Homo sapiens: one gene and its partners. The protein of the gene in region 3 purifies or fractionates together with the protein of the main gene of each other region. This does not show direct contact. Each region holds a gene or a part of one and is shown on either strand. Other genes may lie near its edges. The genes, in order: AHCYL2, SIL1, KNDC1, PPP2R5A, PPP2R5E, ANAPC4 and USP47.

The links.
Region 1: the proteins of KNDC1 (region 3) and AHCYL2 purify together in Homo sapiens (affinity purification with mass spectrometry; one large-scale study listed by BioGRID and IntAct). This does not show direct contact.
Region 2: the proteins of KNDC1 (region 3) and SIL1 purify together in Homo sapiens (affinity purification with mass spectrometry; one large-scale study listed by BioGRID and IntAct). This does not show direct contact.
Region 4: the proteins of KNDC1 (region 3) and PPP2R5A purify together in Homo sapiens (affinity purification with mass spectrometry; one large-scale study listed by BioGRID and IntAct). This does not show direct contact.
Region 5: the proteins of KNDC1 (region 3) and PPP2R5E purify together in Homo sapiens (affinity purification with mass spectrometry; one large-scale study listed by BioGRID and IntAct). This does not show direct contact.
Region 6: the proteins of KNDC1 (region 3) and ANAPC4 purify together in Homo sapiens (affinity purification with mass spectrometry; one large-scale study listed by BioGRID and IntAct). This does not show direct contact.
Region 7: the proteins of KNDC1 (region 3) and USP47 purify together in Homo sapiens (affinity purification with mass spectrometry; one large-scale study listed by BioGRID and IntAct). This does not show direct contact.

What each region holds. Positions count from the first base shown.
Region 1 is NC_000007.14:129,231,530-129,235,029, forward strand, and holds part of AHCYL2 (adenosylhomocysteinase 3), read left to right. Parts: intron 1-3,500. UniProt on the Homo sapiens protein: May regulate the electrogenic sodium/bicarbonate cotransporter SLC4A4 activity and Mg(2+)-sensitivity. On the contrary of its homolog AHCYL1, does not regulate ITPR1 sensitivity to inositol 1,4,5-trisphosphate.
Region 2 is NC_000005.10:139,188,369-139,191,868, forward strand, and holds part of SIL1 (nucleotide exchange factor SIL1 precursor), read right to left. Parts: intron 1-3,500.
Region 3 is NC_000010.11:133,159,001-133,163,018, reverse strand, and holds the start of KNDC1 (kinase non-catalytic C-lobe domain-containing protein 1), read right to left. Parts: upstream 2,801-4,018; 5' UTR 2,552-2,800; coding exon 2,450-2,551; intron 1-2,449. UniProt on the Homo sapiens protein: RAS-Guanine nucleotide exchange factor (GEF) that controls the negative regulation of neuronal dendrite growth by mediating a signaling pathway linking RAS and MAP2. May be involved in cellular senescence.
Region 4 is NC_000001.11:212,351,410-212,354,909, reverse strand, and holds part of PPP2R5A (serine/threonine-protein phosphatase 2A 56 kDa regulatory subunit alpha isoform), read right to left. Parts: intron 2,093-3,500; exon of another isoform or gene 1,960-2,092; intron 1-1,959. UniProt on the Homo sapiens protein: The B regulatory subunit might modulate substrate selectivity and catalytic activity, and might also direct the localization of the catalytic enzyme to a particular subcellular compartment.
Region 5 is NC_000014.9:63,536,878-63,540,377, reverse strand, and holds part of PPP2R5E (serine/threonine-protein phosphatase 2A 56 kDa regulatory subunit epsilon isoform), read left to right. Parts: intron 1-684; exon of another isoform or gene 685-685; 5' UTR 686-692; coding exon 693-849; intron 850-3,500. UniProt on the Homo sapiens protein: The B regulatory subunit might modulate substrate selectivity and catalytic activity, and might also direct the localization of the catalytic enzyme to a particular subcellular compartment.
Region 6 is NC_000004.12:25,387,263-25,390,762, reverse strand, and holds part of ANAPC4 (anaphase-promoting complex subunit 4), read right to left. Parts: intron 2,264-3,500; coding exon 2,189-2,263; intron 2,047-2,188; coding exon 2,020-2,046; intron 1,926-2,019; coding exon 1,881-1,925; intron 628-1,880; coding exon 543-627; intron 1-542. UniProt on the Homo sapiens protein: Component of the anaphase promoting complex/cyclosome (APC/C), a cell cycle-regulated E3 ubiquitin ligase that controls progression through mitosis and the G1 phase of the cell cycle.
Region 7 is NC_000011.10:11,953,472-11,956,971, reverse strand, and holds part of USP47 (ubiquitin carboxyl-terminal hydrolase 47), read right to left. Parts: intron 2,076-3,500; coding exon 2,028-2,075; intron 1,939-2,027; coding exon 1,808-1,938; intron 972-1,807; coding exon 797-971; 3' UTR 1-796. UniProt on the Homo sapiens protein: Ubiquitin-specific protease that specifically deubiquitinates monoubiquitinated DNA polymerase beta (POLB), stabilizing POLB thereby playing a role in base-excision repair (BER). Acts as a regulator of cell growth and genome integrity.

The DNA of each region.
Region 1 (3,500 bases), on a different chromosome or scaffold from region 3:
AAATAATTTAGAGAGGTACAACTGAGGCAGATGGGAAGAGAACAATCTTGGCAGTTGCCCTGATCCACTGCCCTGCTGTCATGTTTAGGTGGTAGACACAATTAGAGGAGCTGAAATTCCATTCACCCAACAAGAGGTTTAGTAAACTTGATCAGATTTCTATGGAATTTGTAGGAGCTTTTTATAGTCTGAATGACCTATGGCCTGCGATTTGGTGAGAGCAGAGCAGAAAGCGGCAGTGGATTGACGTTTCTTCTGTAACAGTTCCCAACTCTAAAATTACTTTGATTAAATTAGATGATTATTTGTATGGGTTTCAGTCTCCCTTTTCCCCAGCTGTATCGTGCAACAGTTCAGTTAGCTATTTCCCTCTTGGACGCTTGCACTAAAAGCTGGTGATTTTATTTTCTTTTTTTTTTTCAAGGGTCTATCAGTAGAAATCTATTGGTTTGGGGCACCTAGTTCTTAGCTTAGAACCTATATAAAGGAAGGGTATTTGAACTGCTGATTGAGTTTCTCTGAGTATAGGACTTTAGCCTTTCTGAATGTTGCAAACCTGAGGCTAAAACTAGCTTCATCTTCTCTGCACACACTTACATTCTACAGTGCTCCAAGGTGAAACTTCATCTATTGACTACCTTTTCTTGGAAACTCTTCTCTTGGCTTCAGTGTCACTTATAATTGCTACCATTTACTGAATACTTACTCCGTGTCAGGAATCTCTGTCTTAGTATTTAATCCTCATGACAACTTTATCAGATGTGTAGTACTATCTTTATATTATGGATAAGAAAATATAGGCTCAAAGAGAGTAATTAACTTGTCCAAGGCTTTGTCAATGAAATGCTGGCCATAGCAATATTGGGCAGCTTTGCCTCTGTGCCAACACCCGTGCTGCTCTGACCAGACTCCCACTGAAGTCTGCTTAAGCTGCTGCTAAGACCACTTTGGATCTCACAATCTAGCCTCTTTCAAGGGGAGGCCTAAACACCATGCCTCACATCCCTGTTTGTTTCAGTCACTACCCGCCATCCGCCATCCATTATCTTCCCAATACTAATTCCTTTACCACTCTCTTCATCCTTCAGCTGATTCAGTCCCTCAAACTGTTCCACCATGTTCTTTACAATATCCCCCTCCTTGATCAGCAGATTCACATGTAGTATCAGTCTCTAGCAGCAAGATCAAGTTATAAGGGCAACAGTGGCAAGTGTTAGCACTTAGTATCCAGAACTGTGATGGTGCAAACCAAGCTGCAGCATCTCCTGCTTGGCATTAGCAATCACATCTTTGCCAACCCAGTTCTGTAATTTTGAGTGTTGTTTTAGCTGTGTAGCACTTAAGTTCTTCACTGAAAAAGTGACCTCATATCCTTTCTGTAAATTCTTTTTCTGTTTAATTCAGCCAGTGTTGACTTCTGCTGCTTGTAGAACTTGGAGTGATGTACGGGTTGAACCTAACCATCTACCTTCTTAGTTGCTGGCACTCATGGAGCTGAGAGTTGCTAGAGAAAATCAGCAAATTAGACAGATCAGTGTCATTAAAAATTTATAATCATCTATTTCATATGCATAATCAGCATTACCTAGCAATGTTATACATTTCTCTAGTTCACTTTCCAGCTCACTGCGAATTATTTCTTCATATTGTCTCTTTCTCTTTTCTTTTTTACTGAGACAAGGTCTCCCTCTCTCACCCAGGCTGGAGTGCAGTGGTACAGTCACAGCTCACTGTAGCCTCAAACTCCCTGGTTCAAGCAATCCTCCTGTCTCAGCCTCCTGAGTAGCCAGAACTACAAGTGTGCTACCACGCCTGGCTATTTTTTTATTTTTTTGTAGAGACGGTATCTTGCCATGTTGCAGGTCTCCAATTCTCGGGCTCAAGTGATCCTCCTGTCTCACCCTTCCAAAGTGCTGGGATTATAGGCATTAGCCACTGTGCCTGGCCTACTGTCTCTATTTCTTTTTCTCTTTTTTTGAGATGGAATCTTGCTCTGTCCCCAGGCTGGAGTGCAGTGGCGCGATCTCCGCTCACTGCAACCTCCGCCTCCCGGGTTCAAGCGATTCTCCTGCCTCAGCCTCATGAGTAGCTGGGACTACAGGCACGCACTACCACGCCCAGCTAATTTTTGTATTGTTAGTAGAGATGGCGTTTCACCGTGTTCGCCAGAATGGCTCAATCTCCTGACCTCGTGATCCGCCCTCCTCAGCCTCCCAAAGTGCTGAGATTATGGGCATGAGCCACCGTGCCCAGCTCTTATTTCTAATCTCTCATATTTTCTTCTTTTTTAACCAGTCATAGGCTTTATGCCTCATTATAAAAATGGAAGCTGCTGAATGGGAATTCCTTCATTCTTTTACCTCCCAAGTCTACAAACCTATGTGCATCTGGGACTCATCTTTTTCTCCTTCATTCTGTCAAGACCAATCCCTTCACAGGTGCTGTAATCATTCTTTTCTCCCCCTCCCCCCTTCCTCCTCCTTTCTTTTTCTATCTTTCTTCTCTCTCTTTCTCTTTGTTTTCATTCATTTTTCTTCAAGAGATGAAGTCTCACTCTGTAGCCCAGGCAGGAGTGCAGTGGTGTGGTCATAGCTCATTGCACCCTCAACCTCCTGAGCTCAATAGAACCTCCCTTCTCAGCCTCCCGAGTAGCTGGGACTATAGGTGCATGCCACCATACCTGGCTAATTTTTTTATGACTTTCTTGTAGAGATGGGGTCTCTTTTTTCCCCCTAGATGGAGCCTTACTCTGTCACCCAGGCTGGACTGCAGTGGCACTATCTCGGCTCACTGCAACCTCCGCCTCGTGAGTTCAAGCAATTCTGCTGCCTCGGCCTCTCAAGTAGCTGGGATTACAGGCATCCGCCACTGTGCCTGGCTAATTTTTGTATTTTTAGTAGAGACGGGGTTTCACCAGGTTGGCCAGGCTGGTCTGGAACTCCTGACCTTGTGATCTGCCCACTTTGGCCTCTCAAAGTGCTGGGATTACAGGCGCGAGCCCACACCTGGCCAAGATGGGGTCTCTTGCTATGTTGCCTAGGCTGGTCTTGAACTCCCAGCTTCAAGTGATCCTTCCTCCTTGGCCTTTGAAAGTACTGGGATTATAAGCATGAGCCGCTGCACCCAGCCACATTTTAAAAACTTTTTGTAGAGATGGTGTCTCACTTTGTTGCCCAGGCTGGCCTCGAATTCCTCGCTTCAAGCAGTCCTTCTGCCTCACCCTCCCAAAGTGCTGGGATTACAGGTGTGAGCCACTGTGCTTGGCCTCTCCTGTCTTAAAGAATTTCTTCCTTTGGTTTATTTCATCTTTCTACTAGGTCTTTTCCTTCAGAATTCACACTTGCCCTATTGTCTCCCATTTTGAAAACCCTGTCCTTTGACCTGCATATTTTCTGTTGCTGTCATGTTTTTCTATTCTCTTTCACAGGCATGCTTCTTAAAGGAGTTTTCAGTACATGCTATATGTGCTTTTTTCCTCTCATGAATTCCTTAACTCACTC
Region 2 (3,500 bases), on a different chromosome or scaffold from region 3:
ATGTACTAATTCCTATTGTTTACCAATTCAGATTGGCCTTCCCTCCAAATAGTGAGTTTTTTTTACCTTATTTGTTTCATACAGAGAAGTGAGGCATGGTCTATAGTCATAGTGCTTGGATTTTTTTAAAAACTCAACTTGAGATCAAAATAATGGGATTGGCTCCAGGGGCTTTTTCCTCACTCCCTTGCTACATGGAACCAGTTGTACATCTCAAAGAGAGAGACAGTCAACTTGAGCACAAAATCTGGGTCAGTGTATGTGACTGTGCCTCCGTGACTTTGCACAAGGACCAGAAATGAGCATACAAATCAGAGGAAAGCAGTGACAAAAGTCAACATTCCCTTGATGAGCTAATTGCTTCATGTCTGGCTGAAGAGCAGAAAGCAAGAGATAAGGAGAACATACTATCTGAGGGACCAGGCAGGCTCTGGACTAGCCAGCCCTACCCCAATAAAATCCCCTCATCAGACACTGCCCCCGAAACAAGGCCTGCTGGCTTGAGCACCTGACAAGAGAGAACCTGAGAAAGATAAGCACTAAGCTGAGTAAGGAAGGAGATGGCAGAGAAGCAGCAAAGTTCCTTGCTACTCACAACTTTTAGTTATTCAGCATGAAATACCTATAACTATTGGTATAAATAATATGTAATACAAACCAACTAAGACAACAATGAGGTGATGGTTAAGATAAAACTTGCTTGGTCAGCATAACCTATCCTGAAACTACGACGTGGCTCAGAAACTGGAAACTATTGTTGTCAATAATGATGACAACACAGAGCATTTACATCAGGGGTCCCAAACCCCCGATACTGGTCTGTAGCCTATCAGAAACCCATCCAAGGAGGTGAGCAGCAAGTGAGTGAGCAAAGCTTCATCTGTATTTACAGCTGCTCCCCAACGCTTGCATTAACGCCTGAGCACCGCCTCCTGTCAGATCAGTGGCAGCATTAGATTCTCATAGGAGCACAAACTCTATTGTGAACTGTGCATGCAAGGGATCTAGGTTGAACACTCCTTATGAGAATCTAATGCCTGATGATCTGTCACTGTCTCCCATCACCCCCAGATGGGACCGTCTAGTTGCAGGAAAACAAGCTCAGGGCTCCCACTAAGTCTACATTATGGTGAGTTGTATATTTCATTACATACTATAATGTAATAATAATAGAAATAGGTTGGGCATGATGCCCATAATCCCAGCATTTTGGGAGGTCCAGGCGGGTGGATCACCTGAGGTCAGGAGTTCAAGACCAGCCTGGTCAACATGGTGAAACCTCATCTCTACTAAAAATACAAAAATTAGCGGGTGTGGTGGTACACATCTGTAATCTCAGCTACTCAGGAAGCTGAGGCAGGAGAATTGCTTGAACCTGGGAAGCAGAGGTTGCAGTGAGCCAAGACTGTGCCACTGAACTCCAGCCTGGGTGATGGAGTGAGACTCTGTCTCAAAAATAATAATAACAGAAATAAAGTACACAATAAATATAATGTGCTTGAATCATCCCCAAACCATCCCCCACATCCCCCAGTCCATGGAAAAATAGTCTTCCATGAAACTAGTCCCTAGTGCCAAAAAGGTTGGGGACTGCTGTTTTACATTGTGCCAGAGGAAGCACCATATCTATTCTCTGAATTCTTAAGATAGCTATAAAAATACATATTACTATTCCCATTCAACAGATCATAAAACTAAGGCTTAGAGAAAATAAGTAACTTACAATCTGACAACTAGTAAGTAGATATCAGAACGTAAATACAAGTGAGTCTGACTCCAAAGTGTGTTTAAACCACTCTGAAATACACTCATTCCTTCTCTCTTTCTCTTAGAGATGTCTTGAAGGTTTGCTTGGATCACCAGATAAGGTCCACTGTTACATCTGGCCTCATTCTTTACAGAAACACACAAGTCTGGCCTGAGCACTATTTGTTTCTAACACGGAGGAAGGCTTCAAATTCATTTCCTCTGAGGTAAGAGCAAGAGAAACACATTTCGACATGAGTAGGAGGAAAAACAGCACGACAGCAAAAATCTTCAACCATGAGGGTATAAGATCATGTACAAGGCAGTAAGTGGAGACAGGGCCTCCTCCTTCCCAGGAGACTTTTAACTGCAAAAGCATCCTGCATCTTTACAATGCTTTAAACAATTCTAACAACTTCTATGGCCACCCTTTGTAAGACCCCTAGCCTGTGTCCCAGCTCTAACACTAGAGTCCCACTATTATGTGGGTGGCCTAAAAAAGATCCTACCATTACGTGGCCCACTTCACTTCTCTGGGGCTCAGTTTTTGTCGTCAGAAAAATAAAAACCTATCAAATGCAAAATGGAGGCATTGGGCAGTAACAGAACTAGAAGTGTATCTCCTGACTCTTCACTCATCCACAGTACCACAAACAGCCAGCCCTGATGTTTGCAAGGAAATAAAGATCTCTATAATATCTTCCAGCCCAAAACACAATCATTTTAGACTTTAGCAGCTGGGTCCAAGGATGGAGACTTAACTTCAAGAATACAGTCAAACCCAACTCCCCATGAGTATGAGATGGGGTGTGGGGAAAAACAAGAAGCAACCTTAGGCCAGAGACAGTGGCTCACACCTGTAATCCCAGCACTTTGGGAGACCGGGGTGAGCAGATTACCTGATGTCAGGAGTTCAAGACCAGCCTGGCCAACATGGTAAAACCCCATCTCTACTGCAAATACAAAAATTAGCCGGCCATGGTGGCAAGCACCTGTAATCCCAGCTGCTTAGGAGGCTGAGGCACAAGAATCACTTGAACCTGGGAGGCAGAGGTTGCAGTGAGCCAAGATCACACTCACACCTGGGTGACAGTGAGACTCTGTCTCAAAAAAAAAAAAAAAAAAAAAAAAGCATCCTTAAATACTTACTTACAACTTACTTATGAGCTGGCCCCTTAAGCTTCCAATACACACTATCCACAGCACTCAAAGCATGGCCAATCAATGTTGTCTGTATCGATTGTCCTACTTTATGTTATTCCACTGGGCTGAAGCCTGCTAGTTTTCTAGTTTGGTCAGATGGCTGCTTTCCCCTTGGGAGCCTCACAAAAATGAGACTATCCCCAGAGGTAAAGAAATGTCCATTTAAAAGCCCACTGGTATAGCTGGGCATGGTGGCTCACACTTGTAATCCCAGTGCTCTAGAAGGCCAAGGTAGGGCATCACTTGAGGCCAGGAATTTAAGATCAGCCTGGGCAATGTTGCAAGCAAGACCCTGTCTCTTTAAAAAAAAAAAAAAAAATTAAATTAGCCAGGCATGGTGGTGCACACCCATGGTCCTAGCTACTTGGGAGGCTGAGGTGGGAGGATCACTTGAGCCCAGGAGTTGGAGGTTGCAATGAGCTATGATCACACCACTATACTCCAGCGTGGGCAACAGAGTGAGACCCTCTTAAAAAGGGCCAGGCACAGTGGCTCACGCCTGTAATCCCAGCACTTTGGAAGGCCGAGGCCGGCAGATCTCGAGGCCAGGA
Region 3 (4,018 bases):
TCACCCCCACAGAACATCTCCCTGTCTATCGTGTACTGGTGGTTCTTTGCCTGTACTGGGATCCAACCTGGTCACTTCCTCCAGGACCTGCTGGCCCACTTGCTGATGCTCTGGTAGGTTCCAGCTGAGAGTGTTCTCACACACGCACGGCCACGTGTCTCTGGGGCCCACACCATAGTGAAGTTGCTGGGACACAGGGCACTGGTGCCTTCTACTTCACCAGCGAATGCTGGGCTGTTTTCCAAAGAGGCTGCTCCATTTGTCCTCCCACTGGCGCGAGGGAGAGCTGCTGCGCCGTCCTTGCCAGCACAAGCCGCTGTCCGCTCTTCAGTTCTTGCCAGCCTGGCGGTCTTGGGAAGGCATTCGTGGGGGTGTATTTTGCATTTTCCTGATTGCAATGAGCAAACATCTTTTCACATGTTCAGCAGCCATTTGGATTTTCTTTGGGACCATGTCAAGGGAGGGACATTCCAGGGGCTCCGGTGGGTGTCCATAGGGGTCTATTTCTTGACCCCATCATGGAGCCAGCCATTATAATTAGCTGTAGAATGAGTGAGTTCCTACATCTTATGAAGCCTGCATATGTCCTGGGCCTGGCGCCACCGTGCTTTCCCGGCAGCTGCCCTGCACCCTTGGCCTTCCGGCATTCTGGGATGATGATGCAACCTCACCGTGCCCTCACCTCACCCAGGACGGTTTTCCCATGCAAGTCAGGTGCCCCGATGGAGATTTCAGAACCTTCCAAGCCAAACACGTGTGGGAAGCAGAGTCTGAACGCCAGGGGAATTCTGAGACATGGGGTGTGTTGGGCTCAGTACTGGGCACAGGGTTGGGCCAGGGACCACCCGATGCTTTCCAGGAGTGTCTGCGAAGGGCCCACCTGAACGTTCCCACTGCACGCTGCAAACTCGGTGGGATGACAGTTCACCTGGAGGCCTTGGTGGACGTCACAGGATGGAGCCACCCACCCCAGTACTGTGCCGGCCGGGAGCTGTCCGGCCGGCCCGAGGACACTGGTGTGTGCGTGGGGGTGGGGAGCGGGAGTGGGGAGTGTGCAGAAAGACAGCCTGTGGCTCCAAGTGGGCTCGCGCCTGGCGCGGCGTGTTGTGTGCGTGGCACCGGCTGCTGCCTCCGTGTGCGGAGCGGGGAGGCCCTCAAGGCTCAGGCCTCTGATGCACGAAGGAGCTGTGGGAAGAGCTGCGTCCTCAGGGCCGCCTCCTAACAGATACCCTGGGATGTGTCCTGGGGCGTTTCTGAAGGCTGCGGGCTGCCCCTCCCTCTCGGTCAGAGCCGAGGTGATCTTGGAAGCTTTATTGCCTCCCCTGGCTGCTCCTCTCTGCAGCCTTCAACTGCACCGAATCCAGGCCATGGTGGGGGCGGGGGCATCGCCAACCCCCGCACAGCCTCAGCTGTTTCTAGGTGGCTGGGCCGAGGGCCTCCTGGGGCTGAACCTTCCCAGAAGGACGGTGCTTCCACAGCAGAAACTCCCGGTCCCTTCAGAGCCCACTCCCCTGGGGCAGCAGGTGGGGACTGCGAGGGGGTCAGGCCCGCGGCTGCTGCAGCCGGGATTCCCTGCTCCAGGCTTACTTGGCCGGCTTTAAAGAGAGGGCGCCACAACATCCCACTAATGGCTGCAGGTGACGACGCTGTCACCCGGAGACGCAGGCGCCCAGCGTCTGGGCTCTTGCCTGTTGGAGGTTTGGCAGATCTCGGATCCCTGGAGGGTGAGGGTCCCTCTGGGAGCTGCTGTATCCCCTGGGGGCCACCTCTCATGCTTCCGGGCCTGGCTTGTCCACTCCATCCCAGCCAAGCCAGAGCTGAGCTACAGGGTCAGACCCAGCCAAGGTGGCGTCTGGGCAGCCGGTGCTGTAGGGTGGGCGGTCCATGAGCAGAAGCGCCAGGGTATGCAGATGGCAGGCAGAGCCCCTCTGCACCTTGCGGGGTAGGGGGGTCTTGGGTGAAGGCCCGGAAAACCAGAGAGCAGGAAGCAGCTCTCAGTCTCGGGGGGCAGTCATCCAGCGCTCCCCCCACCCCCCGCTCCTGAACCTCAGCTCCGGGGACCTCATCCCCCAGCTCCTGAGCGGCGCCTGATTGGACTCTGCTGCTCTGCACCCCGCTGGCCTCCTGGGGCCCGGCAGGGAGTAAGCAGACCCCCCTCCGTCCTCCTTGCTGCCCCCACACTGTCCCGCCAGGGTTTCCACCAGGAGCTACCGCGCACCAACTTCTGCAGGGGCTGCCCACCCGCCGCCGTCCCGTGCGCATTCGGGGGTGCTGTCCCCTCCGGGTGAAAATCCTAACGCGGGGGCTGAGAACGGCGGTGGGAACCCCTCGGCCATGGAGGGCGCCTGGGGAGGCGGGAGCTCACAGCCCCTCCCGGGTCCTCCCCCCGGGCGCTCTCCGCGGACCCCTCGGCGGCGGAAGGGGCCCCCCAGTGGGGCCGGGGGCTCACCTCGTCCTCGGGGAGGGTGGGCAGCGGCTCGAAGTCGTAGAAGTCCAGGTCTTTGCCGTCCTCCTCGTAAAGATCCGCCGCGGCCGGGTCCATGGCCTGCATCCTGCGGCCGCGCCGCGCACCGCCCCCGGGGCCTCCGGCTGGGCTGGGCTGGGCTCGGCTACGCGCGCCCTGGCTCCATGGAGACGCGCCCGGCCCTCGCCCGCCCCCGCCCGCCCGCCGCTGCCGCAGTGTCTCCAGGGGACGCGGTCAGGGATACGGGGCGGGCCCGGGGGGCGCGGGGGGCGCGGGGTGCGCGGGGGCTGCGCGGCGCTGTCCGGACCCGGCGCCTAGGGAACGTCGCTCCTTCCTGGGGGAGGCACCGGGGGCGGAGCCAGGCGTGTGGCCTCCGCGGGGAGCCACGGGGTCTGCGCCCCACCTGGGCCCCAAGGGTCGAGGGGCGGAGCCGGCGCCCAGGAAAGCTCGGACGGGCAGACCCCCTCGCCGGCTCCCGCCGCCCCCGTCCCACCCCCGCTGCTGCCGGGCGGGGCTGCCGCAGTCCCGGGGTGGCCTCTGCAGCGGCGTTGGGCAGGGCCGGGCGGGGCCCGGGGTGGGGGGCGGGGCCCGGGGTGGGGGGCGGGGCGGTCGCTGGGCCGGGGTCTCTCCTGAGCGAGGGTCTTTCGGAGGCCCGGGGATGTTGGGGGTGGGGCAATAACGCTGCCTCATCCCCACCTGGAGGCATCGGAGAGACCCACTGGGCACCCGACCCTCCCCGGTCCTGGGGGACCCTGGGGGGTCCTGGGGCTCTTGACCTCTTCCTGCCCCAAAGGCCCCCCGGGGCTTTCTTCAGCGCCAGGGTGACCCCGGCCCACGGTAGTGCCGCGGTCAGAAGAGCCAGGATAGCCCCAAGCTCGGCCAAGAGGCAGGGAGGGTGGAGGAGAATCTCACCTTCCCCGGCCACCCCCAGAACTCCCACAGGAGAGAGGGCGGCTTCAGGGCCCGGCTGTCAGCTCCCCGTCCGTGTGGCTGGCCAGGCACACAGTAGGTACTTAATCCATGCTCCTGGCTTGAAGGAGCAGCAGGGCTTTTGACCGCAGAGTGGGAGGGTGCAGTGTGTTCAGGGACGTGAATTCCCAGCACTCTGTCCCCTGGTCGGTCACCCGGGCTGTCACTCTGGCCTGGCAGGGAGTTCAGGGGCTCAGCTCCCCGGGAGCCAGGTGGGCACTGAAGCCGGAGGCTGGGAGTGGGGCAGGTGCTGGGCAGACTCCCTGCGTCCAGCCAGGCAGCCCCACCTTATTGAAAATGCCCACCCTGGGGCCCACCCTGGTCCACCGAGTCAGCAGTCAGGTGCAGCCTCCCCCATCCTTGGGTGTTTGGAAGCTTGGGCAGCAAGCCAAGGTGGAGTGGGCTGGAGCTGGAGAGGAGGAGTCTCACAGAGGGTGGCCTCAGCCAGCTGTCCCTGAGCTCTCTCTCTGTGGGCCCCACAGGGCCTGCAGCGCCCCAGTCCCTGTCTTGGAAGGAGGCGGAAGTGGCAGGCAGACTCTGCTCCAGGAGCCTGATCCCGCTGCACCCTGGTGCTCAGACCTGGAC
Region 4 (3,500 bases), on a different chromosome or scaffold from region 3:
CCTAGGCTACAAACCTGTACAGGATGTTCTTGTACTGAATACCGTAGGCACTGTAGGCAGTTGTAACAATAGTATTTGTGTATCTAAACACGAAAGGTACAGTAAAAATATAGCATTATAATCTTATGGGATCACCATTTTTCTTTCTCTTGGAATCACATTTCTCTCTCTCTCTCTCTCTCTCAACATTTCTCTCTCTTTTTGATGAGGCCTCACTCTGTTGCCTAGGCTGGAGTGTAGTGACATGATCAGAGGTCATTGTAACCTTGAACTCCTAGGCTTATTGTAACCTTGAACTCCTAGGCTTAAATGATCCTCCTGCCTCAGCCTCCCAAGTAGCTGGGACTACGGGTGTATGCCACCACATCTGGCTAATTTTAATTTTTTACTTTTTGTAGAAACGAGGTCTTGCTCTGTTGCCCAGGCTGGTCTTAAAGTCCTGGCTTCAACCAATCCTCCTACCTTGGCCTCCCAAAGTGCTGGGATTACAGACATGAGCAACCATGCCCAGTTCCATTTTTATTTTTTAAGAGACAGTCCAGACTTGCATTGTCGGCCAGGCTGGGGTGCACTGGTGTGATCACAGTTCACTGCAACCCCCTAGGCTCAAGAGATCCCCCTACCCCAGCCTCCCAAGTAGCTGGGATTACAGTCCTGAGCCACCACGCCTGTCTGGGACTGACATTTTATATGTAGCCTGTTATTTTTATTTATTTATTTATTTTTGAGACAGAGTCTCGCTCTGTCACCCAGGCTGGAGTGCAGTGGCACGATCTCGGCTCACTGCAACCTCTGCCTCCCGGGTTCATGCTATTCTCCTGCCTCAGCCTCCTGAGTAGCTGGGACTACAGGCGCCCGCCACCAGGCTCAGCTAATTTTTTGTATTTTTAGTAGAGACGGGGTTTCACTGTGTTAGCCAGGATGGTCTCGATCTCCTGACCTCGTGATCTACCCGCCTCGGCCTCTCAAAGTGCTAGGATTACAGGCTTGAGCCACAGCGCCCGGCCCGTAGCCTGTTATTAAACGAAATGTCATTATGCAGCACATGACTGTAAATAAGTGAGGTGGTTCAATATTGTGCAGAGATATTTTTCCTGTACTTAATTTATAAGTAAATTTAATATAATTTCAATCAAATGCCAATTGAATTATTTTTTGGAACTAGAAACATTTATTCTAAAATCCATAAATATAAGCAAATAAGAATTGTTTTTTTGGTGGGGGGAGTTAATGGAACAGAACCTGTATTATGGATATCAGCAACTAAAACAAGATTATATTGGCAAAGAAATGGAGAGAAAAGATATATATGAGTATCTAGATATACTCATGTATATATGGATTTTAATATATGACAAAGGTGGCCTTTCAGTTCCATGGGAAACAGTGGTGGTACTGGGACAGGTAGCTCACTATTTAGAAAGGAAAAATGTAGCAGGCTCCTTTGGTTGGCAGACTTCTATGATGATCTCATGAGCTTGTTAACTGTCCTCACACCCTTGTGTAATCCCCTCTCCTTAAGTGTGAGCTGTCCTAGTGACTTGCTTCTAACGAACAGACTGTGGCAAAAGTGAAAGAATGTCACTTCATGAGTAAGATACAAAAGATTGTGACTTCTGTCTTACTAGTAGACTCGCTGTCTTGGCTTTGATGAAGTAAGGTGCCATGCTGGAGAAGCCTGGGTGACAAGGATCTGAGGGTGGGCTCTGGCCAACAGCCAGCCAGGAACTGAGGCTCTCAGTCCAACATAACTTGACAAACTGAATTCTGCCAACATACATGTGAACTTAGAAGCAGATCCTTCCCCATCTGACACTTTATATGAGACTCAACTTCTGGCCAACACTCCAACTGCAGCTTTGTAAGAGACCCTGAGCAGAGGGCCCACCTAAGCCATGACCAGATTCTGGATTCACAGCAACTAAGGCAACAAATGCTTGTCATTTTTCCTCCCAATGGAATGGTATTTTCCCAAAATCTTGCAGATCAGTTACAGCAAACAGAACTATGACCATCAAGGAAAACTGTCACTCTTGGCTTCTTTTTGACCACAGCAGCTACATGGAAGCAGCTGCAGCTTTGATAAAGGCCATAAATGCTTGCTATTTTAAGCCAATAAATTTTGTGATCATTTGATATGCGTAATTGAAAATGAATGCAGGCCAGGCATGGTGGCTCAGGCCTTTAATCCCAGCACTTTGGGAGGCCAAGGCAGGCTTGGGCCCAAGAGATCAATACCAGCCTGGGCATCATGGTGAAACCCCATCTCATCTTTACCAAAAATACAAAAAAATTAGCTGGGCATGGTGGTGCATGCCTGTAGTCCCAGCTACTTGGGAGGCTAAGGCAGGAGGATCACCTGAGCCTGGGAGGTCAGGGCTGCCGTCAGCCACAATCGTACTACTGCACTCCATCCTGGGTGATGTGGTGAGATCCTGTCTGAAAAAAAAAAAAACCCAAAACACAAACAAACAAACCCAAATGTAGTTCCTTACCCTCATCATACACAAATTTCAATGTCGGGCAGTATTGAATAACGAACACTGGGTTGACTAGTGGCCCCCAAAAAGATGTCAATGTGGGCCAGGTGCAGTGGCTTACAACTGTAATCCTAGCACTTTGGAAGGCCAAGGAAGGCACACTGCCTGATCTTAGGAGTTTGAGACCAGCCTGGGCAACATGATGAAACTCCATCTCTACTAAAAATACAAAAAAAAACCTAGCCGGGCGTGGTATCGGGCGCCTGTTATCTCAGCTACTCAGGAGGCTAAGGAACAAGAATTGCGTGAACCCAGGAGGTGGAGGTTGCAGTGAGCCGAGATGGTGCCACTGACTGCACTCCAGCCTGGGCAACAGAGTGAGTCTCTGTCTCAAAAAAATAAATAAAATATAAAATAAAATAAAAATAAAATAATAAAATAAAATATAAAATAAAATAAAAAAGAAAAATAAAAAAATTATTTTGGGGCTCAAGTTAGATTTTCTTGGAATAAGAACGGTGTTTTGTTTTGTTTTGCTTGTTTTATAAAAATGCAGCTTTGAGTGGAAGGAAAGGTTTACACTGCCAAAAAAATAAAAGTTTTGAAAGTCATGCCGACTCTTCATTTTTTTCCTCTTTACATGGAAACTTAGCTGTAATGAATATTTAGTTAATTCTTCCACTCTGCACTTTTTTCTTTTTAGACGGAGTCTCACTCTGTTGCCCAGGCTGGAGTGCAGTGCTGTGATCTCGGCTCACTGCAACCTCTGCCCTCCTGGGTTCAAGCCATTCTCCTGCCTCAAGCAATTCTGCCTCAGTCTCCCAAGTAGCTGGGATTACAGGTGCCCGCCATCACGCCCGGCTAATTTTTGTATTTTTAGTAGGGATGGGGTTTCATCATGTTGGCCAGGCTGGTCTTGAACTCCTGATCTCAGGTGATCTGCCTGCCTCAGCCTCCCAAAGTGCTGGGATTACAGGCTTGAGTAATAAACTAACAAAAGCTCTGAGCTACTTATAATTT
Region 5 (3,500 bases), on a different chromosome or scaffold from region 3:
CTCACCGCAACCTCCGCCTCCCAGGTTCAAGCGGTTCTCCCTTCTCAGCCTCTTGAGTAGCTGAGATTACAGGTGCATGCCACTGCGCCTGGCTAATTTTTGTATTTTTAGTAGACACAGGGTTTCACCATGTTGGCCAGGCTAGTCTCGAACTCCTGACCTCAAGTGATCCACCCACCTCGGCCTCCCAAAGTGCTGGGATTACAGGTGTGAGCCACCGGGCCCAGCCCTTTTTTTTTTTTTTTTTAAAGGACGGAATCTCACTCTGTCACTCAGGCTGGATGGAGTGCAATGGCGGGATCCTGGCCCACTGCAACCTCCACCTCCCAGGTTCAAGCGATTCTTTCACCTCAGCCTCCCGGGTAGCTGAGATTACAAGCACCTGCCATCATGCCCGGCTAATTTTTGTAATTTTGTAGAGACTGAATTTCACCATGTTGTCCAGGTTGGTCTTGAACTCCTGACCTCAAGTGATCCACCCATCTCAGCCTCCCAAAGTGCTGGGATTACAGGCGTGAGCCATTGCACCTGGCCAAGATAAGACTTTTCTTAACTGATTTTATTTTCTTTAGCACATATTCCCATTTTCATGAATATTGTATATGGGAATTTTAGAATTTGTATAACTCACATGTATGCTTCCACCTTGGGAATGTATGGGTTTATGATACTTCTTTCTCTTCAGTAGGGATATGTCCTCAGCACCAACTACTCCTCCATCAGTGGATAAAGTAGACGGATTTTCTCGGAAGTCCGTCAGAAAAGCCAGACAGAAGAGGTCGCAAAGTTCCTCACAGTTTAGGTCTCAAGGCAAGCCTATTGAGTTAACACCTCTGCCGCTGCTAAAAGGTAAGGCTCATGACCAGGTGATGCATTCTTTTTCAATTGATCTTTCTACATCTATATATAATTTCCTTTTTGTAGAGTTTTATATGTGTTGCAAATTGAAGGGATGGGATACTTCACATACATTGAAGTTACTAATGTGTGACCAAATATACCCACTCTCCTTTTTAAAGGCTCAATTTAGTCTGTCTTTGGGCAAGTTAAAAGAAACATTATCAGGAGAATATCTCACATTGATGAGTAGGTAAACTAAGTACTAGAGAAACTTTAAGATGTCTGGGTTTGTGTTTTTCATTTTTTCTTCTGTTGACGTTTAGGGATACATTATATACAATGACAACTACAGATTATGGTCTTAGGAAGTAGACCCTAGTAGAGGAGATGGTACCATTCATTAATTTACATATAGAAAATGGTATTTGGAAGAATTCGTTTTTAAAAATCAAGAAAAAAATGGTCCATTTATAGTTGTTTACATGCACTCTTGTTTTCACATAGTACAAGTAGAAAAGATATACCTTTCTATGTACAAGTATGATGATCATACTTGTTTAGTATGATCTTTTCTTTGAAATTTGTTAATTTTTTAATTTTAATTTTTATCTTTTGAGATAGAGTCTCCCTCTGTTGCTCAGGCTGGTTCACAGCAACCTCCACCTCCTGGGTTCAAGTGATTTTCCTGCCTCAGCTTCCCGAGTAGCTGGGAGCACAGGTGCCCGCCACCATGCCCAGCTAATTTTTGTATTTTTAATAGAGACAGGGTTTCACCATGTTGGTCAGGCTGGTCTTGAACTCCTGACCCCAAGTGATCTGCCCACCTTGACCTCCCAAAGTGCTGGGATTACAGGTGTGAGCCACCGTGCCTGGCCTGAAATTTGTTAAAAACAAGTTTTTTGGTTTTTTAAATTTTCTTTTGAGACAATCTCATGCTGTCACTCTGGCTAGAGTTCAGTGGGGACAGAGTGAAAGTGCAGGTTGAGGCCGGGCGTGGTGGCTCACGCCTGTAATCCCAGCACTTTGGGAGCCCGAGGCAGGCAGATCACGAGGTCAGGAGTTTGAGACCAGCCTGGCCAACATGGTGAAACCCTGTCTCTTCTAAAAATACAAAAATTAGGCGCGGTGGTGGCACCTGTAATCCCAGCTACTCGGGAAGCCGAGGCAGGAGAATTGCTTGAACCGGGAGGCAGAGGTTGAAGTGAGCCCAGATCGTGCCATTGCATTCTAGCCTGGGTGACAGAGCAAGACTCTGTCTCGGGGGAAAAAAAAAAAAGAAAGTGCAGGTTGGGGCTCACTGTGGCCTCTATTTCCTAGGCTCAAGTGATCCTCCCTTTCCCGAGTAGCCGGGATCAACTTCCCGAGTAGCTGGGACTACAGAAGCATGCCATCACGCCCAGCTAATTTTTCCATTTTTTTGTAGAGATGGAGTTTTGCCATGTTGCACAGGCTGGTCTCGAATTGCCATGGTGTTCCCATGCCAGGATTTAGGCGTGAGCCACCATGCCCGGCCCAACACGTTTTTAATATGAAGAATTTTTTCTAAATTAGGCATTTCAACTTTTGTTTGGGTATGTGGTTACTTTTTGTCCCTTTTAATTTTCATCATGTTTGCTTCATGTTTATGAACAGGTGTTGTTTGAAAAATATCAGAACATAGCTTTTATAGTGTGGAAACTATCAGAATTTACCTTTGAGGTGGATGTTTATGTGCTGAATACTGAAGAATGGGAGAAAGGGGATATGAACAACACAATGAGCTTTAGTGTGGCTTGGAGGAAACCAGGCAACCTGGTTTGCTAGTTCATTATTGCAGACTTATTTCTGTAACAGTTTGTGAAATCAGAAGGTATTATAAGAAAAACTGGAATGTAACCGGAAAAGATCCTCAAAATTTAGCTTAGGATATTTCAAGCTTCTATTTTTTCCATATGAATACTTTTTTTAAAAAAGAGAGAGAGATTCATAAATAAGATTCCAATGTTTATACAAAATTTTTGGAAACTGAATACTGATTACTGTAAAGATGATATATCTACCAGTCAGTAAAGATGAGCTCCTGTGAGCTTTGGGGGAGAAAATTTTGACTAGAGATTTTGCTGGTAAAAATGAAAATAGTCATTATGAGGCTTTGGAAAGAAAATGTAGGAAACACTGTAGATTGAACTATGCTTGAAATACAAAGTTGGGAGACACTGGTTTTTAGTAATCTATTTAATCTGAAGTAGATATGTAATGGGTGTTAACTTCTGTATCTGTAAAGGACTTCATTCTGAGGAAGCCAGTTAAATTTTTTTTTTTAGAATTAGAAGGAATTTAAAAACTTACACTAATTTCTTGGATCTTATGGTAAACAATTAAATTAGGACTTCACTGACCACTCATAGTCAGGGTATTGGTTTTGTGGGTAGTGAAAGAAGCATGCATGAGAAGAATTTGGACACATGCTTTAATGTATTTTTTCTTTAATGCTTTCATGTCTTTTTTCTCATTTTAAAAAATTATGGTAAAATATACATAACATGAAATTTACCATCTTAACCATGTTTAAATGTGCATTAAGTGCCTTGACATTGTCATGCAACTGTCCCTACCATCCATCTCCAGAACCTTTTCATCTTCCCCAACTGAAGCTCTGTACCTGTTAAACACTGACTCCC
Region 6 (3,500 bases), on a different chromosome or scaffold from region 3:
CTGCCTGCATGGACCTTTCTAGTTACAAGGCCACAAAAATAACCTGGTTCCCTCACCCCTACCCAAGTCTCAAATCAAGTGCTGCAGAACCAACATATTCCACAGAGCCTACAATATTTTCTACCCCTTTTGCGAGTGTAAGAGTCTGATGAAAAAGCTATGGAGAAGACTGAGACGTAGCAACTATAGTACAGTCAGTACTGGACTTAAGAATGCTTCTGAAGATTTACATTCCAATCACAAATTGAAGCTCTTTTACATCTCACACTAGAAAAACATCAAATCATAATCAAGTGTATCATACTAATCTTTCTGTTAAAGAAAAAGAAAAAAAAACTTGACTAATTCCACAAATAGCTCCCAATCTTTATAGACATATCACAATTATTTTATCTTAGTAAGGAAATTAGTCTCTGAACATTTAAGAATAATTCCAAAAATCGAAACTGAAAAAAAACCTAGTGTTTTATTCTTTTTCCATAAGTACCTAGTATATTCTAAGAGAAATAATTTAGGAAGAGAAAATGTTAAAGAAATCTTACCCCTGTGACTCGAGCAATTTTAAACATTCCATAAGCATAAAGCTCAATAAATCCAGAGCTTCCTCCAAGGACGAGAATATTAAGCCTAATTAAAAACAATGCAACAAGCTGAGAACCAATCAACAACACAGATGATTGCATTGTTAAAGCGAGATATAAATTATTACTGCTTTCATATAATCTACATGCTAAAGCTCCCCTGCAGAGGGAAGTGAGACATCAAATCCACTAACACTCAATATTCAGTCACATCAGGCTCATTCCTTTTTTCAAAGAACACAAATTTCCTCTAGCCTAAAAAAAAATCAGCTTACAGTAAAATAAGAATACATTATTTTAATAACAACTATATTTATACACTCTCAATAACAAAACAATCCTTTTACCAACTAATACAAAGTGCCATCAGTTTTATCATGGTTATGATGCTAAATATATTAAATGGGCTTAAAAAACATGAATACTTAAAATTTTAGAAACTCTAGTACTTATATCCTTTAACTTATTAAAATAAACATATGTACATCATATTATTATTAAAACTTCATAAAACGAAAGGCCACACAATAAAAACAATAATAGATATTAAGGTCTATATATTGTTTGAAGGTATTAATGTCAACGATAAGGCCAGGTGCGGTGGCTCATGCCTGTAATCCCAACACTTTGGGAGGCCAAGGCGGGTGGATCATCTGAGGTTGGGAGTCTGAGACCAGCCTGGCCAACATGGTGAAACCCCGTCTCTACTAAAAATACAAAAATTAGGCCAGGCGCGGTGGCTCACGCCTGTAATCCCAGCGCTTTTGGAGGCTAAGGCGGGTGGATCACGAGGTCAAGAGATCGAGACCATCCTGGCCAACATGGTGAAACCCCGTCCCTACTAAAAATAAAAAAATTAGACAGGCCTGGTGGCGGGTGCCTGTAGTCCCAGCTACTCGGGAGGCTGAGGCAGAAGAATCACTTGAACCAGGAAGGCGGAGGTTGCAGTGAGCCGAGATAACGCCACTGTACTCCAGCCTGGCAACAGAGCGAGACTCCGTCTCAAAAAAAAAAAAAAAAAATTAGCTGGGTGTGGTGGCGCGTGCCTGTAGTCCCAGCTACTCGGAGGAGGCTGAGACAGGAGAATCGCTTGTGCCCAGGAAGTAGAGGTTGTAGTGAGCCAATATCACGACACTGCACTCCAGCCTGGGTGACAGAGACTCCATCTCAAAAAGAAAACAAAAACAAAAAACAATGAAATAAAATGGCAAATAAAGGATTTGCTCTTAAAGCTTCTGAAAACTGCCTCAAATATGAAATAACTTTAAGAAATTAGACTTATTTATCTGTAAGATTTACCTGACGTCTCCCAAGAGCTTAATAATTTCATCAGAATTTTCTTCACTAAAATATAGAAGTAAATTGGGTCATCTTTCAATTCTGTCTTCCAAATAATAGCAGATTATCTTACTTGAAAACAAGAAAAGGCGTATCTTACCTAAATATTTTTGAGGTGTTGCTATAGCTAGAAGGAAACAGAGATTAAGGTAAAAAATACTCTTAGTAAAAATACATATTTTAAAACGCATGAGAAAATTGTCACAGTGTTAAAAGCAGAAGAAAGAGAAATCTGCAAGATTAATTTCAAAGAAACCAGTGATACATACTTTTTTGGCAGTGTAGGTAGTTTAGGTAAGAGAAGATTTGATTCATCCTCAGCATTATAAAATGATGTGAGAACACTAAAAAGGAAAAAATAAAAGCATTATAAAAACACCAAAGATTTTACTTCTCTTGCCATTAAAAATGCTAATTTTTAAAAAAGATACCCAGTTTTACAACATTATCAAGTAAATAGATGACACAAATACTATACAGTTGTAGTCAGTTTAACAGTCCCAAATAGGAAATTGAAAAGTAGGAATTTCTGTTATTTTAGGGGAAAAAAAACATCAGCCTGCACACGTTACATTTAGAGAAATGATATTAATAAACACTTTTCTTAGCATATGAAATGCATTCATATGTACTCAGATACTGAGAATTTATGATTTCTTAACTCTCATTTAAGAACTCACACCAAACATATGACTACTAAGAGTAGCACTATCTTTTATTTATGAGACAGGGTCTCACCCAGGCCGGAGTGCAGTGGTGTGATCATGGTTCACTGCAGCCTTCACCTTCTGAGCTAAAGCCATCATCCTGCCCCAGCCTCCTGAGTAGCTGGGACTACAGGTGCAAGCCACCACACCCAGCTAATATATACATTTTTTTTTTTAGAGATGGGGGTCTCACTATGTTGCCCAGACTGGTCTGAAACTCCTTCCTCCTGCCTCAGCCTCCCAAAGTGCTAGGATTATAGGCATGAACCACTATGCATGGCCTACTATGTGATTTAGTTATTGGTTCTATGACTTATACACACTTGTGGATTTGATAATCCAACAGGTATTTGAGACTACACCATGCCTTTTGAAATAGTCTTATTTACCCCCTTTTCCTTCTCAATTCTAACTCCAAATAAGGTTGGAAATAAATGAGTAAGCAAGTAAAAAAGTGGTGATTTAGCAAGTATTTTTTCCTACTTTAATAAAAAGGAGCTGTCTTGAGAGACCCTGGAATCGCCACATAACACTTCTAAACTGTTAGTAGAAAGTATGTTGGGAATACACACAGCAGATAACCGGGCTGGAATAGGAATTACATGATATGCTCTGACCCTCTAACATTCTACATATTCACATAACGATTTGTAATCCTTCATTATCTGATGATGGATTTATCACTCTGGTTTATCTACAGTGAATTTCAAACCCCAGGTCAAACCCTTGTCATCCAATTCTTTCAGGCTTCCCTTAGGAAAGCTGGCAATTAATATTCAGGATTTACAAATTCATTTGATATTACCTTAGTATAACTTAATTAGAAAGGAAAAGTTAATGGTAAGAAAATTAGCATATTTCCCCAAAAAAGAAA
Region 7 (3,500 bases), on a different chromosome or scaffold from region 3:
AATCATGGCAGATAGTTGAACTGCAATTATGATAACTCAACAGGATCAATTTTATTTACATGCTGAATAAATGAATGAAACATATTCTCTACATCCATAACTTAAGTACAATCAGTTATAATTACAACACTGCAGCAATCTGAGCTGCCACCTGCTGGGATCGGTCTAAGGGAAACGTTCTGATGTTCCAGAATAATGTTCTTAATACTCTGCAAAAAATGAAACAAAATAAAAACACAACTTCACAATTCCTTACTGGGTTACGGCTGGTTCCAAGAATTTCTTTTCTTCAGCTCCTGTTTTTGCTGCTTTCCAAGAGTCAACACACGTTGGATTTACTTCTGAATTGTCAATGAGGTAATGTGTGCATCAGTGAAATAAACAGAAAATTCATTCATTCATGGCCTTTGCACAGCTTTTATTATTAAGCTATGAGCATCCTGTTTGAGGCTAGTTTTACTAGCGGCTATGTGCACATTTGTCCGCAATAAAAGAAGTTTACTCATTCCCCTGTCCCCTTTTCTAATAGAAGGTTAGCTTTTTTTGTTGTTTTTTTTTATTTTTTTGCACATCCCTTTTCACTTTACAGTACATTTGACTATAGTGCACAACATGATTCCGAGTCAAAACAGTGGCCCATTGGGCACTGAGCTTCTGATTGGTGTAGGGCAGTCCAATCAGTGCTGGTGTCACTGGGTTACCCCAACCATGTCCGGCCAAAATGGCACTACCCAGTGGTAGTGAACCATCTAATTAAAACCAAAACTCCCCCAGGGAAAATGCTACACTATCAGAGTCAGTCTTGAGTCAGATCTTTATTTGGTGCTCCATCCAGATATATTTTTAGTGCTTTCTCTTTACGAGGTGAGTATGTTACACGATGTCCAGTCTTCTGGAGTCGACTGCTTTCTTTTTTCATCAGTTCATTTCTTTGCTCATCTGTCAATTCCATTAATTCTTCTGTTTTATCCCTACATATAAAATATTAATCACATATTAGTCCAGTAGAGCCCTCCACCTCTATTAATGTATGCTTGAATGCTATGATGCTCCTCAGCAAGATAATGAAATCTGTTACTGGTGAAGTAATATTATTTTATATACTGAGATGTCCCAGATTTCTAAGGTGTTAATCACAGGAACATATTGCTTACTTCTAAAAGTGGCGGAGAATAACTTCCATGTTATTAGCAGTAGTAACAGCTATCATTATTGAACATCTATAATAGGCACTGTGCCAGTTATTTTACATGCAACAGCTCTAATTCTCATAAAATCCTGCAAGGTAGACATCATTGTTGCAATTTTATAGATGAGGAGCTAGGTAAATCAGAAAGCTAGTTTTGAACCCAGATTTGTGAGGCTCCAATGACTATTCTTTTTCCTCTACATCTGTGCTGTCCAATACAACAGCCATTAGCCACATGTGGCTATTGAGCTTGTGAAATATGCCTGGTTCAAATTGAGATGTGCTGGAAATATAACAGACATACAATATTTCTAAGACTCAGTACAATAAAAAAATGCAAAATACAAATGATTTTTTATACTGATGACATGTAATGATCATATTTTGGATATATTGGGTTTACAATATTTTTAAAATTAATTTCACCTGTTTCTTTTTATTGTTTTTAATGTGGCTACTAGAAAACTTCAAATTATAATCATGTTTGGCTGTCACTGTATTTCTACCGGTTAGTGCCGCTCCATATCATAAAAACAGTAAAGATATTTATGGAAAATAAGATATGTATGCACGCCAAAAATGTATTACTAACAGCAACAAAAACATTGTGAATGTTACCTATAAAATATGACCGCACCATCATCACAGATATAAAGAGGCCAGACATTCAGGGTAGAAACTTTAGGATTCCAGTCTAAATCCTGATGAATATCAAGGACAGAAATATCACAGGGAAATGTTCCTCTACCCTAAAAAGAAAAAGAATGAATGAATAAATCATGCCACTAGCTGTGTTTATCATGCACAATACACAGATGCAACATTCTCAGGGCTTTACCTTAGCAAATTCAATATCATCCAAAGGAATCCCACTGATTTCACTAAGCTGTAAAATAAAACATTTTATTTGAGTTCATTTAAAAAATTAACTTGCTTAGAAAAGTTATTTTCCTTTTACCCCACAAACAGAAATAGCTCAGTTTAAAAAATGTTTCATGTAAAAAAATTAAGAAAAAGCAGAAAGCGGCCACCCTGCAAATACCATGTCCCAGAAATACCAAGTTAGTATATTCCTTCCAGACCTTTTCCTATGCATACACAAACTACACCCACGTTTCTAAAACATGTAAAATCAGATTAATATCTCTATATAATAATTCTGTTCCTAGAGGAATAGGATACAAAGTGACCACATTCTCTTCAATAACCGAACAATATACATTTTATCTCCTACTGATGGACACTGAGACTGTTTTCAGTTTTTCCAAGTTACAAAGCTCTACTGTATACTTCCATGAATATCCTCGCACATGGTGAAACCCCGTCTCAACTAAAAATACAAAGAATTAGCCGGGCGTGGTGGCATGTGCTTGTAGTCCCAGCTACTCGGGAGGCTGAACCAGGAGAATCACTTGAACCCGGGAGGCGGAGGCTGCAGTGAGCCAAGATCGCACCACTGCATTCCAGCCAGGGCAATAAGAGTGAAACTCCGTCTCAAAAATAAATACATAAATAAATAAATTCTTTTTTCTTGAGACAGAGTCTCACTCCATCACCTAGACTGGAGTGCAGTGGTGCAATCTTGGTTCACTGCAACCTCCACCTCCTGGGTTCAAGCAGTTCTCCAGCTTCAGCCTCCTGAGTAGCTAAAATTACAGGCATGCACCACCACACTTGGCTAATTTTTGTATTTTTAGTAGACACAGGGTTTCACCATGTTGGCCAGGCTGGTCTCGAACTCCTGAACTCAAGTGATCTGCCCACCTCAACCTCCCAAAGTGCTGGGATTACAGGAGTGAGCCATGGCACCCAACCTGCAAATACTTCTACAGATCGAATTCCCAGATGTTTAATTGCAAATCCGAAATACTGACAAATGATGCCAACTGAACTTGAAAAAAATCATATCAATTTATACACTTATCAAAGGTATATATTGTCTGTATCCCCTAAACCTTGAGAACTCTAGGTATTTTTTGATTTTCTAAATCTTCACCAATTTAAGAGTGAAAAATAACGTTATTCTTTAATTTGTATTTCTTTTTCTATAAATTGCCTATTCATGCTGTCTTTCTTAAAATTAGATTTGTTCCGTCTTTTTCTTATTAAGGTAGTAGCTCCTTATAAATTATGGACAGCATGTTTAATAACTGCTTCAAATAATTTCCTCCTAGTTTATTGTCTTTTAGCTTTGTTTATGAGTTGCTTTTTAAATACCTTTTTCTTTGGCTATGCAGAGGATAGGTTTTTACGTGGTCTATAGTTTCTTTTTTTGGCTTCTGGTATTATGCTTACAAATATCTTTTTCCAG